Linked DNA regions of Homo sapiens: all the other regions are reported to be linked to region 2. The links are microRNA targets in miRTarBase. Many come from high-throughput screens and were not tested one by one. Region 2 holds a microRNA gene; each other region holds the end of a gene's coding sequence.
What was found. The annotated mature microRNA hsa-let-7d-5p reads AGAGGUAGUAGGUUGCAUAGUU and lies in region 2 at 2,755-2,776, shown strand. An mRNA with a match to its seed (bases 2 to 7 or 8) in the 3' UTR can be bound and repressed. Matches are read on the target gene's strand: a 7mer-m8 pairs with bases 2 to 8, a 7mer-A1 pairs with bases 2 to 7 and ends in A, and an 8mer does both.

Region 1: miRTarBase lists NEMP1 as a target of hsa-let-7d-5p. Seed matches in the 3' UTR shown: 8mer at 1,991-1,998.
Region 3: miRTarBase lists SLC12A7 as a target of hsa-let-7d-5p. Seed matches in the 3' UTR shown: 7mer-A1 at 848-854.

Annotation. Positions count from the first base shown.
Region 1 is chr12:57,056,095-57,060,160 of GRCh38, reverse strand. NEMP1 (nuclear envelope integral membrane protein 1) reads left to right here. Exons shown (of 9, transcript NM_001130963.2): 9 at 102-4,066. The coding sequence ends at 282. Among named protein-coding and RNA genes, the nearest start is that of MYO1A, 8.0 kb to the right of the region's middle.
Region 2 is chr9:94,176,087-94,180,154 of GRCh38, forward strand. MIRLET7D (microRNA let-7d) reads left to right here and starts at 2,748; the gene lies at 2,748-2,834. It overlaps MIRLET7A1HG (miRlet-7a-1/let-7f-1/let-7d cluster host gene), which reads left to right. Exons shown (of 5, transcript NR_170278.1): 3 at 3,734-3,835. It overlaps MIRLET7F1 (microRNA let-7f-1), which reads left to right and starts at 261; the gene lies at 261-347. LINC02603 (long intergenic non-protein coding RNA 2603) reads right to left here. Exons shown (of 3, transcript NR_160773.1): 3 at 483-1,645. RefSeq lists an enhancer at 3,159-3,208.
Region 3 is chr5:1,048,624-1,052,689 of GRCh38, reverse strand. SLC12A7 (solute carrier family 12 member 7) reads left to right here. Exons shown (of 24, transcript NM_006598.3): 24 at 239-2,306. The coding sequence ends at 330. Among named protein-coding and RNA genes, the nearest start is that of MIR4635, 12 kb to the left of the region's middle.

The sequences.
Region 1 (4,066 bases), not on the chromosome of region 2:
GAGTTGCGAGCATATCGAGGGCTTTAATTTGTTCTTATTTTGAAAGAAGACCAGAAAGGACAGAAGGATATTTCTAACGAGTATTATCTTCTCTTTTCCAGATTTGCTGACTTTGTGGAAGGCTCTTCCCACCTCACGCCAAATGAAGTTTCTGTCCATGAGCAGGAGTATGGATTAGGGAGCATTATTGCCCAGGATGAAATCTATGAGGAAGCATCCTCTGAGGAGGAGGACTCATATTCTCGGTGTCCTGCTATCACACAGAACAACTTTCTAACCTAGGTAGTGGTCAGTTATCTTTACGTGGACTGGCTTGGTGCCTTGGTCCATGTTGCATGTGTTGTGCAATTGCTTTCAACCCTTTGAAACAGAGTGAGATAGATAGGGTAGAAATTCTCCTACTGAAATAAGAGGCCTAAAAAGGCCTCCCTTTGGAAATGGGAGGTCTCTATGGGATCCCTGAGGAAGGAGAGTGGATAAAGTAGTGAATGCTGGGTAGTTCACTTCCCATTGGTTAAGCTAACAGCCCACTTTTATGTTTCCAGAGAAATTGGATGGCCACAGCTAGCATGGCATTCTAGCTCCTTCTTGAAAGTTGATTCAATCATGGCATTTCTGTCACTGGCTGGCTCTCCAAAGTAAGAACTGTTGTTAAGTGCAGGAATGCTTTTAGACTATAGGCTGCAACTTCCAGAGAGAAATCCACAAATCTGAGCCTCCTTCACTCCAGCTTTTATTTCAGTGACTTTAGAATAATTATTGATTTAACTGTTTTGGGAGGAAAATAGATTTTTATTGTTTTGTTTTTTAAATGAATGTCTTTTAAAAAACATAACAAACTCATGTTCCAGAACCAGCAAGTGCTCCAGAGTGACACACCCCCTAGGCCCCTACATATTTATTAATATGGATTATCCATTAAAGCCCCAGGAGCTGTTGTTTTAAGCTTTGATTTAGTTCTCATACATATGATAGAAAGTCCTATTTGCCTTTAGGAACATGCCTGTAGGCTCTTCTGCAGGTGAGATGTACTGGGCTTTTTATTATATTCAACTTTCAATTCCATCTTAAAAAACATTTGTATTCTTCTCTTCCCATTCTTCCTTACCCTGCCTTTGCCCTTTCAGGAAGGGTCAGTTCCCTTACCTGTGAACTATGTATGTTCAGAGTAGCATTATTCCTGCTAGCTAGGAGAAGTCATCTTGTTTAGGGGATTTGGATGCTTTTTATACGTTCTCCATTTTCCTGTCATTGGGTCATGTTATCTTTGAGTTGCTATGAAATCAGGAAACTGTCTCCTTTTCCTTTCCCTTCCTTTGTCTACATGCTCTGTCCATTCCTTTCAGCCTTTTCTCACCACCCATACTCCCCCAAATCTGGGTAATTTTTAAGCCTTGAAACTATGTAGTTTCTTGATACACAATTTGTAGTTATGCAGCAGCCACAATTTGCATTGCCAGGAAATAGGCTCCAGGTTATCTTCATGCCTCTGGGTGCTCATTCAGCTGTCAAGTTTCCATGAACTTACACTTATTTATGATTGCGTTTCTGACCTGAGATGTATGCTGCCTGTTATTGCAGTAGCATTAGTTTCAGATTCTTTTGCCATTGCAAAGTACCCCTTATAAACCAGCAATGTCATCTGTGAGGAAGCAAATTCTCAAGTGTCTGTCATTTACTTGGTTCTTTTTCTTTGTGGTCTTCACCCTTATACCCTGGAAAAGTCTGTAATTACCTTAGCCAGGAAGATAGATGGTCATGGCAAGCGCACAGCACCAGACTTACTGGCTCACCAAGATGATGGAAAAAGGCAGATGATTTTTTAAAAAGCCGTAATGACTCCTTTAGACCAGCCATTTAGCGTGGTAATTTTGAAAGGCCTAGCTCCATTGCAGACTTCCAAAGGGTCAGCTCTGAGACTGCCCTCCAGGTGGGCAGTTGATTATTTCCACCAGTGTTTTCCAGAGCCTTAAACTGTCCTAAGTGACAACTACCTCAGTTGGCAGGAAAGAGACATATAGTAGAAAGTGAAAAATGAGCAGTATTTGGGCAGATGCTATGGGTTACAGTTGAAGGGTAAAAGGAACTTTACATTGGGAAACCTTTATACCCTTGTGAATTATGTACATGGTAAAATGTTCTCTCTCTACAAAGAACTATTAAAACTTCTGAAATATACTATTTTTTACCTTATTTATAGAAATTGAGACCTAGCATATTTAAGCATAAGTTTATTTTAAAAAATAATTCAACTCGTGCAAGTGGTCTCAGGATTCTCTGGAGATTTTGGTGCCTCCCCTACTTAGGGAGGTGATAGCTTGCCTATAAGGGTGACTTTTCCTGATCATGTCTTTATTTCAATGAGAAAGCACTGTGAAATTGTGAAAGATTCTCCTCTTTCTCTGTTTAATAAACCCCCATGAAATATAGTTTCCATCTCTAGACCAGTTTTTTTTCCACCGTGTTTAGACTTGAGGTGAATAAAATCAAACTGTTTTTTACTCCCTATCTGGTAGTTGGAGACCTGAGCTGTAGGCAGTGGAGATGGCAATTGGTTCTGCAGCCTGAGAGTTGCTCTCACACAGTGAAGGACGGTGCTGCTCTGGTGTGCTGTGTGTCCTTGCCCTGCCTGCCTGTGGCTCTGCCCAGATGCTTCAGATCCTCTGTGTTCCGGAGATTGCTTGACTTCAACCTTCTTTAGGAGCTGCTCTTGTCTCCCTCTTGGCCACTTAGTTTGCTGGCTCAGTCACTACTTGAAGACCCCATTTAATTTTTCTCTGGCAGTTATAGCTCTTGTGATTTCAGTACAGTCTCATCTCTCAGACCAATCTCATCAAGAAGGATTGAAGGGATAACTATGAGGTAAGCTGGACATTGGAGCCGTGTTTGCTGCCACGTCAGCGTCTTGCTGGGTGAATGTCAAGCCATAAATGGGCTCCAGGGCTCTGGATCTCATCAGCATTGGAAATCTATTGCCTCTCATCAGTCTGACCAAATTATGTAGAGCATTAATGTAGAGACTCCCATTAATGGGAATACAAGAGGCAGCTGGCATAAAACATTTCTTTCACTTTCCTTTCCCACTCAGATTGCTTCAAGAGACCAACAGAACACAGGGATCAAAAACAAGGAAAATTTAGCAACTTCATTACCTTCTAATAAGTAATTCCTGTTAGCCACTGCATCCCACCAAAACTAGTTTATTTTTCCCCTCAAATTCATGATTTTTACGTCTGTTACAAAGGGAATTTTGCTGATAGCTCTTTGGGTCCCACTGTTCCATTTTATGCTAATAGATTCCATTCTAGGGCCCAGCCGTCTCTTGACTGATGGTGTTCCCTTTAACCCTTGGCATGTATAATAGAATTTTGGTGAATGAAAGAACCCAAATAGGCCAGATAGTCCCCCCAGGCCCTGATATCCATAAAAGGCTTGGGAATGCATTATGTAATTGTCCTTAGTCTTTTTGTTGTTTTAGAAAAAAAAAACAAGATGGGCTCAGATGGATGCCTACGTAAAAATGGTTCCTAGCTGTGTACTCATAACTTTTCTTTGAATTGAGTAGTGAAAGGAAGGAGGAGGAAAGGAAATTAAATGTCCTTCTAGTATTCTCTGGACTCAAGTCTGACATATGAGATAATAACCTATATTGAAATGCCAAGAATTGTATCTGAAACAAGAGAACAGTTTGACACATTTATCATGCCTTCATATTACATATTAACTGAAACCAATTAATAAACATATGAAATATCCATTGCACAAGGCAAAGGCACCTAAACCTTTTGTTTCTTTTTCTACATAGCAGAAATTGATTTTTTTTTTATTTTTTTAGGGGAACCTATATAATTATGACCCAGTGATGTCTTTTGGTGACTTAAGCTTATGAATTCAGGTTACAATTGAGTTGATTCTAGATGGTTACTACCTTGAAAAGGATGTTGGTGCCTTATGTGACACGAGCCAGAGCCTGCTGGGAATAAACAAAGCAGATTCATGCCAACACCAACTCGTAGCTTTAGTGGCAGATGGGAGTGGTCACAGACTCCCAAAATGTGGGGCTTTG
Region 2 (4,068 bases):
TAATTGTACAATATTTAAGATTAACTTGTCTTAAAGAGATGTAGTGCAGCATTTGTTTATGGCCTGGAAATAAATTAATTTAGAGATAAAGTCTGTAGCAAGTACACTGGATGGGGGTGGGGAAACCTTTTGCTTCTTGTCTTATTTCTCTGTGTCAGAATAAATGTATTTTTTTATTTTGATTTATGCTGATAATTTTATGTTGAAATTTTCTTTCGAAAGAGATTGTACTTTCCATTCCAGAAGAAAACATTGCTCTATCAGAGTGAGGTAGTAGATTGTATAGTTGTGGGGTAGTGATTTTACCCTGTTCAGGAGATAACTATACAATCTATTGCCTTCCCTGAGGAGTAGACTTGCTGCATTATTTTCTTTTTATTTAGATGATATTAAAACTCAGAAGAATTAATTTTGACATTTTGTATTTACAGTTTATCAGTTAATTTTCTCTGTTCAAGTAGTACAGTAGGCACAGATTAACATTTAAATTTTTCACATATGGTATATTTCAGAAATTTGAAGTTAAGCAAAAATTTTAATGAGTAGAGAAAGTAAGTAGCCTTCAGGAAATCTTCATAGAGGACCAGGCCCTTTTGGAATTGTGAATAGGTTTATTGCCTTACATCCTGGTACACATGTCCAAGGTCAGGTCCTGGGTGGTAAAGGTAAATACAAATTGGAAGGGCACTGTGTGAGCCAAAATGAGTCAGATTAGTCATGATTCATTTCCAGTTTGGGTTTTGGGTGGTCTTGGAGAATGTTGTAAGCACTGCTTCATTGATAGGTTGATTGAGCCAGACTTTACTCAGCAGCCTGGAAAAGGAGAGATGGGCTCTGGGTTCTACCTTTGCTCACTGGTAAGTTGCTAAGATTTCAGCTTTGCCCTCAAACCCTGAAGTAGTCCTTCATTCACACAGTGGGATCACTCGAAAATGTCAGATGGGGAAGTCCATAGGTTGTTACTTTAAAGAAAATAGAAAAAATGCTGGAAAAGGTTTCTTCAATTTTAATACCCATGAAGGCCCATGTTTTAGCTTTCCTCCGATGGGCAAACCATACACTAACTTGGGCCTTGTAATCAACAAGCAAGGCTAAAAGCTCTCTAAGTGCTTGCTGTTTAAACTATTTTGTGTTGGAAGAAGAGTTGGAAAAGAGGCAGTGTGGAGGTGAGGGAGAAGTTCCCTCCCTCCAATCATTTCCAATAAATGGAAATTTAAGGAGAAATTTGTGTTTATCCTTAATATCTAAGATAATCACTGTGCAGTGCCATTGGTACTTTTCATGAGAGTAGAAACATCAAACTTCCTTGGATGGGCCCAACCCAGGTGACTTAACTCTGGACCAAATGTATGCTTTTTGTTTTATCCACTGTGGACAGCTGCATAGATAATTGGTCTTTGTTCTAAACTGCACATAAAAACATGGGAGAAAATGACATTTGTTGCCTTTTGATGTGCCAAAGAAGAGTGGGAATGTTCTAAGAATTCTTTTTGGCTTAATCTTTGTTGAATTGAAAATATGTATAACTCTTCTGCTGAAAGTGTAGCAAGTACAGTCATGAAATTTTGTGGTCTTCCTGACATGTTCTTCCAGCATAACGTTGCCACCTTCAGTTGGAAACGTATCCTTATCTAATAATTAAGCCCTGGAGAAAAATTAATTTATATATTTTATTAATTACATAAGGACATTGTTATTAGCTAAGCAGAGTAAGTAAATCGAAATAAAACTTTAAAAATGCCTTTATGGAGAGAATGACTATCTCTGAAAGCTTGTTTTTAATGATGATAAAATTCATGATCAGAATTTGTTTCTGTTTGCTTTAATTCAGGGGTCAAAAACTGAAATACCATCAGAGGCCCAGGAGGGGCTAGTTGTAACTGGCAAATATAGTAAATTAATTTGCTCTGGTTGATAGGTAGCAAGCAGGGTTTATATACATTGTCACCTACTTTTCCAGTTAACAGGAGAGACTGGAGATTTTATGAAATTTGATATTTAAATGTTGGTAACTGGGTTGGGCACCATGGCTCACACCTCTAATCCCAGCACTTCGGGAGGCTGAGGCGGGTGGAGCACCTGAGGTCAGGAGTTAAAGACCATCCTGACCAGCCTGGTGAAACACAGTCTCTAATAAAGATACAAAAATTAGGCCGGGTGTGGTGGCTCATGCCGGTAATCCCAGCACTTTGGGGAGGCCAAGGTGGGCGGATCACCTGAGTCAGGAGTTTGAGACCAGCCTGCCTAAATGGTGAAAACCTGTTTCTACTAAAAATACAAAAAAGTAGCTGGGCGTGGTGGTGGGCGCCTGTAATCCCAGCTACTCTGGGGGCTGAGGCAGGAGAATCACTTAAACCCAGGAGGCAGAGGTTGCAGTGAGCCGAGATCACACCACTGTACTCCAGCCTGGGTGACAGAGCGAGACTGTCCAAAAAAAAAATTGATAATTAAATGTTAAAAGTCAGCGACTCCAGTAATACGTGGTGGGCTGAGTATTAGACTACTGGCTTACATCCTCTGATGTCATTACTTTCTTGTTCGTTTGTGACTTGAGGTTGGATTTTAAGCAAATGTATTTGTGGCTTTTTACCAAGGTCATATGGCCAGATAACTTTTCAAAAGCATTAGTTAAAGAATTCTGATTAGTTTGAATTAGAAACAAAACTCAAAGAACATGACCTAATTTAACAGGTTAATTTGAAGTGCATCTGCCAAGTAGAAGACCAGCAAGAAAAAAAAAATGGGTTCCTAGGAAGAGGTAGTAGGTTGCATAGTTTTAGGGCAGGGATTTTGCCCACAAGGAGGTAACTATACGACCTGCTGCCTTTCTTAGGGCCTTATTATTCACCGATAACCTGTTTCCTTGCTACTTTGCTTTGGTGTAAGCAGAGTTCTTTCTGTAGGTTTTTTCAAATGAAAACATTGCAAGAATATCAAAGAGAGCAGTGTTTGCGTTAGTGATTATAAACTGCAGCATGGTGCTGACATTGATAACTGAAAGTCAACTAATGAGAATTTGAGACTTCTGAAGTACACTTAGTTGCTAGTGTCTCCCTTTTGGTGTCACTGGAAAGTTTAGAAAGCATGGTTTTGTTTTTGCTCAGGTTTCTCTTTCTGTGATGCAGAGACTCTCAGCTGTTCCTCCTCTATGTCTACATTATGTCTGAAGGAAAGAATTTAACAAAACTTGAAATACTGCTGTTTTTCTACAATGTTTGTAAATATTTATCTTGCTGCTTTTCTAGGTTTGTCTTCTGGATTTAAAATTTGGGGCGGCTGGGGTGGAATTGCATGGTTTGGGAATGGGTAATTGAGCTGCTGCTCATTATGGTATGTAACAGTGATTTGTCTGTTTAATATGTACAAGAACTGGAAGGTCAATAAAATGAAAGTGGTTGTCTTGACTGGGTAATAGTGTTACATATTTTGTTAAAAGTTATACATCTTTTCAATAAAAACACTGCATACTTCAAAACTAGTGCTTTTTAAGTCATCCTTAACCCTTATCCCCATCCTTGCAGTAGTAGATGCATTTTTCATTTGTAATTATTATGATTTGTTCTTAGTTTCATTTTTCATTAGCAATAATTTGGTGATTGGATGGTCATTTACAGATGTTTTAATAAAGCTAACACGAGCAATTTCCAGCTCTTCCATTTTTGTAAACACTTGTGTGACTTTGTACAGACAATTAACTGCTCAGGATCACCCTCCTTTTTGTTTTGTTTTTGAGATGGTCTCATTCCGTCACCCATGCTGGAGTGTAGTGAAATGATCACAGCTCACTGCAGCCTTGACCTCCCGGACTCAAGCTTCCTAGTAACTGGGACTACAGGTGCATACAACCATGCCTGGCTAATTTTATTTTTGTAGAGACGGTTTCACCATATTGCCCAGACTGGTCTTGAACTCCTGATTATCCTCTGGCTTTTACCTCCCAAAGTGCTGGCCAGGACAGCCTCCTTTCTTTACTTGAGTAATTATTTGAGTTTGCTCAGGCAGACACTACCTTGTAAAAACTCTTATGTCTCATTTCACTAGTCTAGTTTGAGCATTTATCATTCTAGG
Region 3 (4,066 bases), not on the chromosome of region 2:
CGTCCTCCCTGTGGCCACGGTGCTCCCTCTCTTTCCCGAGCACTGGCCCCTCTCTCCCCTGCCCTGCTCCTCCCCGCCTGGGGGGTCTCTCTAATCCCCACCTCTCTTTTCACCTTGGCTCTGGGTTTCTCAAACCAAATCTTAGCTAACCAGGAGAGGATAAACCTCACTCCTATCACGATTTCAGCTACACACGCTCAGGTAAGATCAGCTGTGGCCTTAACTCTGTTGACCACAGACATGGAGTTTCTTGAAGTCCTGACCGAGGGGCTGAACAGAGTCCTCCTGGTCAGGGGTGGCGGCCGGGAGGTGATCACCATCTACTCCTAATGCCCAACAGCATCACGGCACTCTGGGACAGGCACGGAGGACGGCGTGGGCAGCCTGGGCCTGGGCTTGGCCCAGGGAAACAGACGGCAGACACACCTGTCCCCCAGTGATGCCGCCCAAGCTGCCCATGGGGCTTCCTACGGAAGTTTCTAGGCCCGTCACCTAGGGCTCTCCTGTTCAGCCTTAACAGGCTCAGCAAATCAGGGCGTGGCTGGACGATTTCCTTGCATCTGAGGGCAGACGCTGCTACCGGAGTGACCTGGACGTGGCCAGATCTTCTCGCAGGTCACAAGAAGCCAGTGAGCCCTTGCCTTGGTTTCTGGAAGTTCTTTTCCTTGGCTGGATTTACCCAGTGGTTAGGTTGCATTTCTACCCCATCCAGAACATTCTTGGAAGAGCACCCGGAGCTGAAGCTGTCCCTGATGATGAAGGTGAAACGTCAGCCCTGGCCATGGCTCCGCTCAGGGCCCCGGTCACCTCCGAGTCACTCTGTTCCTTGACTGTCTTTGTGTTTCTGTACCTCAAGGCACTGAAGCTGGAGGACTCTGTCCATGCCCGTGTCACCCTCGTGTGGGAGCCTCTGGGCTCGGCAGGTCCACATTTCATGAGCTGAGGCGTGGGCCAGGGCCATCTGGAAAGGGAACTCGGCTTTTCCAGAACGTGGTGGATCATCTGTCGGGTGTGTGGTGAACACGTTCAGTTCATCAGGGCCTACGCTCCGGGAAGGGGCCCCCAGCTGTGGCTCTGCCATGCCGGGCTGTGTTTGCAGCTGTCCGAGTCTCCATCCACCTTTAGAAAACCAGCCACTTCTTTTCATAAGCACTGACAGGGCCCAGCCCACAGCCACAGGTGCGATCAGTGCCTCACGCAGGCAAATGCACTGAAACCCAGGGGCACACGCGCGCAGAGTGAACAGTGAGTTCCCCCGACAGCCCACGACAGCCAGGACTGCCCTCCCCACCCCACCCCACCCCAGGAGCACGGCACACAGTTCAGCCTCTGAGCTGGCTCACACGTGCCATCCCCACCCCGGTGCTCCAGGGAAGGAGGACACGGACCCGACGTGGGAGGTCCTCAGGCAGCAGTGGCGCCTGGTGTCAGGTCTGTCTGGCTGAGTCCCGGGCGTCCCCTGCCATGGCCTGTGCCTTGCATGGAGGCGGCGGTGGCACTGAAGAGATAGCTTTCAAGGGCCCAACACTTTGCACTTCGGCTGGCTGTGAGTTTCTGCTTTGTAGGTTGTGGTCACATTTGCAGGCTGCGGGCAGTGGCACCGACTTGGGCCTCCCTTTCTATGTGGCATATTTATTTATTTAAACACCCCAGGGAGTTACGTGGTAACAAGGTTGTCCATAAAGAGGTTGCTTCTATATACTAGAGGCCCCAGATGGCCAGGCCTTGGGCTACGTCTGGCTTGCATGGTCTCCCAAGGGAATCAGCCCCATCAACAAAGTTCAAATCGGGGCAGAGGCTGCACTTGTGCCCCCAGATGTTTCTGAGGAGCCAGACTAGGGCTGGCATTGCTGTAGAGTGACGGCTGCTGCCCAGAGCGTGTCCCAGACATCACAGCGGGGCTCAGCAGTTCCCACAGCCTCTGCCTGCCTTGGCTAAGCATGAGTTAAGCAGCAAAACGCTCCTCCATGTCTGGATGGGGCCGGCAGGTCCTGTGTCCCCTGCACCTGGAGGAGAGCAGGCTAGAGGCACAGCGGCCACATGGTGCTGGCTCTGAACGTTGGTTGGTGGCTGGAAAACAGCCCTGCTTCTGAGGGCCGCTCAGTTCTGCACACGAAACCACCTCCTGAGGGCTCAGCTCTGCCCCCGCCCTGGGCTGCAGCCTCTGCACGCAAGCACCAGGCATCCTTTGTGTTGTCAACTCCGTGTAACCAGTAACTACAGCCATTTACAATTGACTCCGTTTCCTTTTGTAGGTTTCCCTGTCTGTCTGTGTTAGTAGAAAAATAAAATCCTATGAAATCTGAGTACGTTGAAGAATCTCTTGAGTCTCATTCAGCATGAAAGACAGCTGGAGAAAATGTACTGGCCGCCCCTTTTCTAGCAGGAGCGTCAGGGCTGACCAGCCACAGCCAACTCAGGTGGCTGAAGAGTGACCATATGAATTGGACGAGGGCTTCCAAATCATGTCATCGGCTTGGAAATGACCTTACCCCAAACTTCCTAGTGCTGTGTGTTGAAGTGACCCAATCTCTGTATTTCTGAGACAGTCTCTGTTGCCTAGGCTGGAATGCAGTGGCGTCACCTCAGCTCACTGCAACCTCCGCCTCCCAGGTTCAAGCTATTTTCCTGCCTCAGCCTCCCGAATAGCTGGGATCACAGGCGTGTACCACCACGCCCAGCTAATTTTTGTATTTTAGTAGAGATGGGGTTTCACCATGTTGGCCAGGCTGGTCTCGAACTGACCTCAAGTGATCTGCCTGCCTCAGCCTCCTAAAGTGCTGGGATTACAGGTATGAGCCACCATGCCCGGCCATTCGATTTATAATTTAATTTATATAAGGATGGAGGCACCAGAGAGTCCGCCATGAGTGGGGACAGCGTGTTCTAACTCGTGAGATGCCAACTCACACCTGTGATGGTCACAGCCAAAACCAGAGAATCGCGGGGAGGACGTGCGGAATCGGACCCCTCTTGCAGGGTTGTAGCTGCACGGGAAGGGCCTGTGGTTCCTGAAAGTGTGAGAGACAGAGCCGCCCCTTCCCCGGCAGGTCCACTCCTGGTGTGTGGCACAGCCTCAGGAACGGGTGCACGCAAGTTCACAGCAGCCAAAATGGATGCAGCCCGAGAACATGCTGAGTCCATGTGGGCCGTGCCTGCTGCAGGCCTCTCAGCTAGAACCAGGAGCCAAGCTTGGAAGCCTCACGCTCGGGAGGAAGCTAGACACAAAGGGTCTCACGCTGTGGGACTGCACTTAACACGAAATGCCAGAGTGGGCCAGGCACAGAGGCAGGGGGTGCACTGGCGGGTGCTGGGGGTGGGTCAAGGGGAATGGGGGGAGATGGGGGATGGGGGGAGGCTGCTTACAGGGTATGGATTTCTTTTTGGGTGAAAATGTTCCGAAATGGCTGTGGTGAAGCTTATGTGACTGAACATGCTGGAACACTGCCTCGTGCACGACGAAGGGCGAATTGTGTGTGTGAAGCTGCCGGGCACCGTGTCCAGTGGGCCTGACACATGGTGGACAGGAAGGGACACGGCACAGGAGGGTGGCGGGTCCTGCTCTGGCTCTCGGGTCACAGGAGAGTGACCGTGAGAGCAGCGTCGTCCTCGGACCCCCGAGGGGTGAGTGCTGGCTGCACCCAGGCATCCACACCCGGGACTCAGAGCACGGGAGCGGCCGGCTGGGGTGGGCCTACTGTCCTGAGGGCCAGATGCTCACAAATTCCAGCAGGGAGGTTTGGAGACCCACTGATGCCTACACATCTGGGACCAGGGCCCAGCCAGAAACCCCTAGGTGTCCCCTTCCCTGGGACCCCAAAAACCAGGCTGCTTCCTAGCCTTGGCCGGTGCTTCCCAAGGAGCAAGAACTCGGCTAGAGCAGTCACCCACTCATTCACACACTTAACTCGCCCATTCACACGCTAACTCGCCCACTCATTCACACACTAACTTGCCCACTCGTTCACACACTAACCCACTCATTCACAAACCCACCCACTCATTCACACACTAATCCACTCACACACTAACCCACTCATTCACACACTAACCCACTTGTTCACAC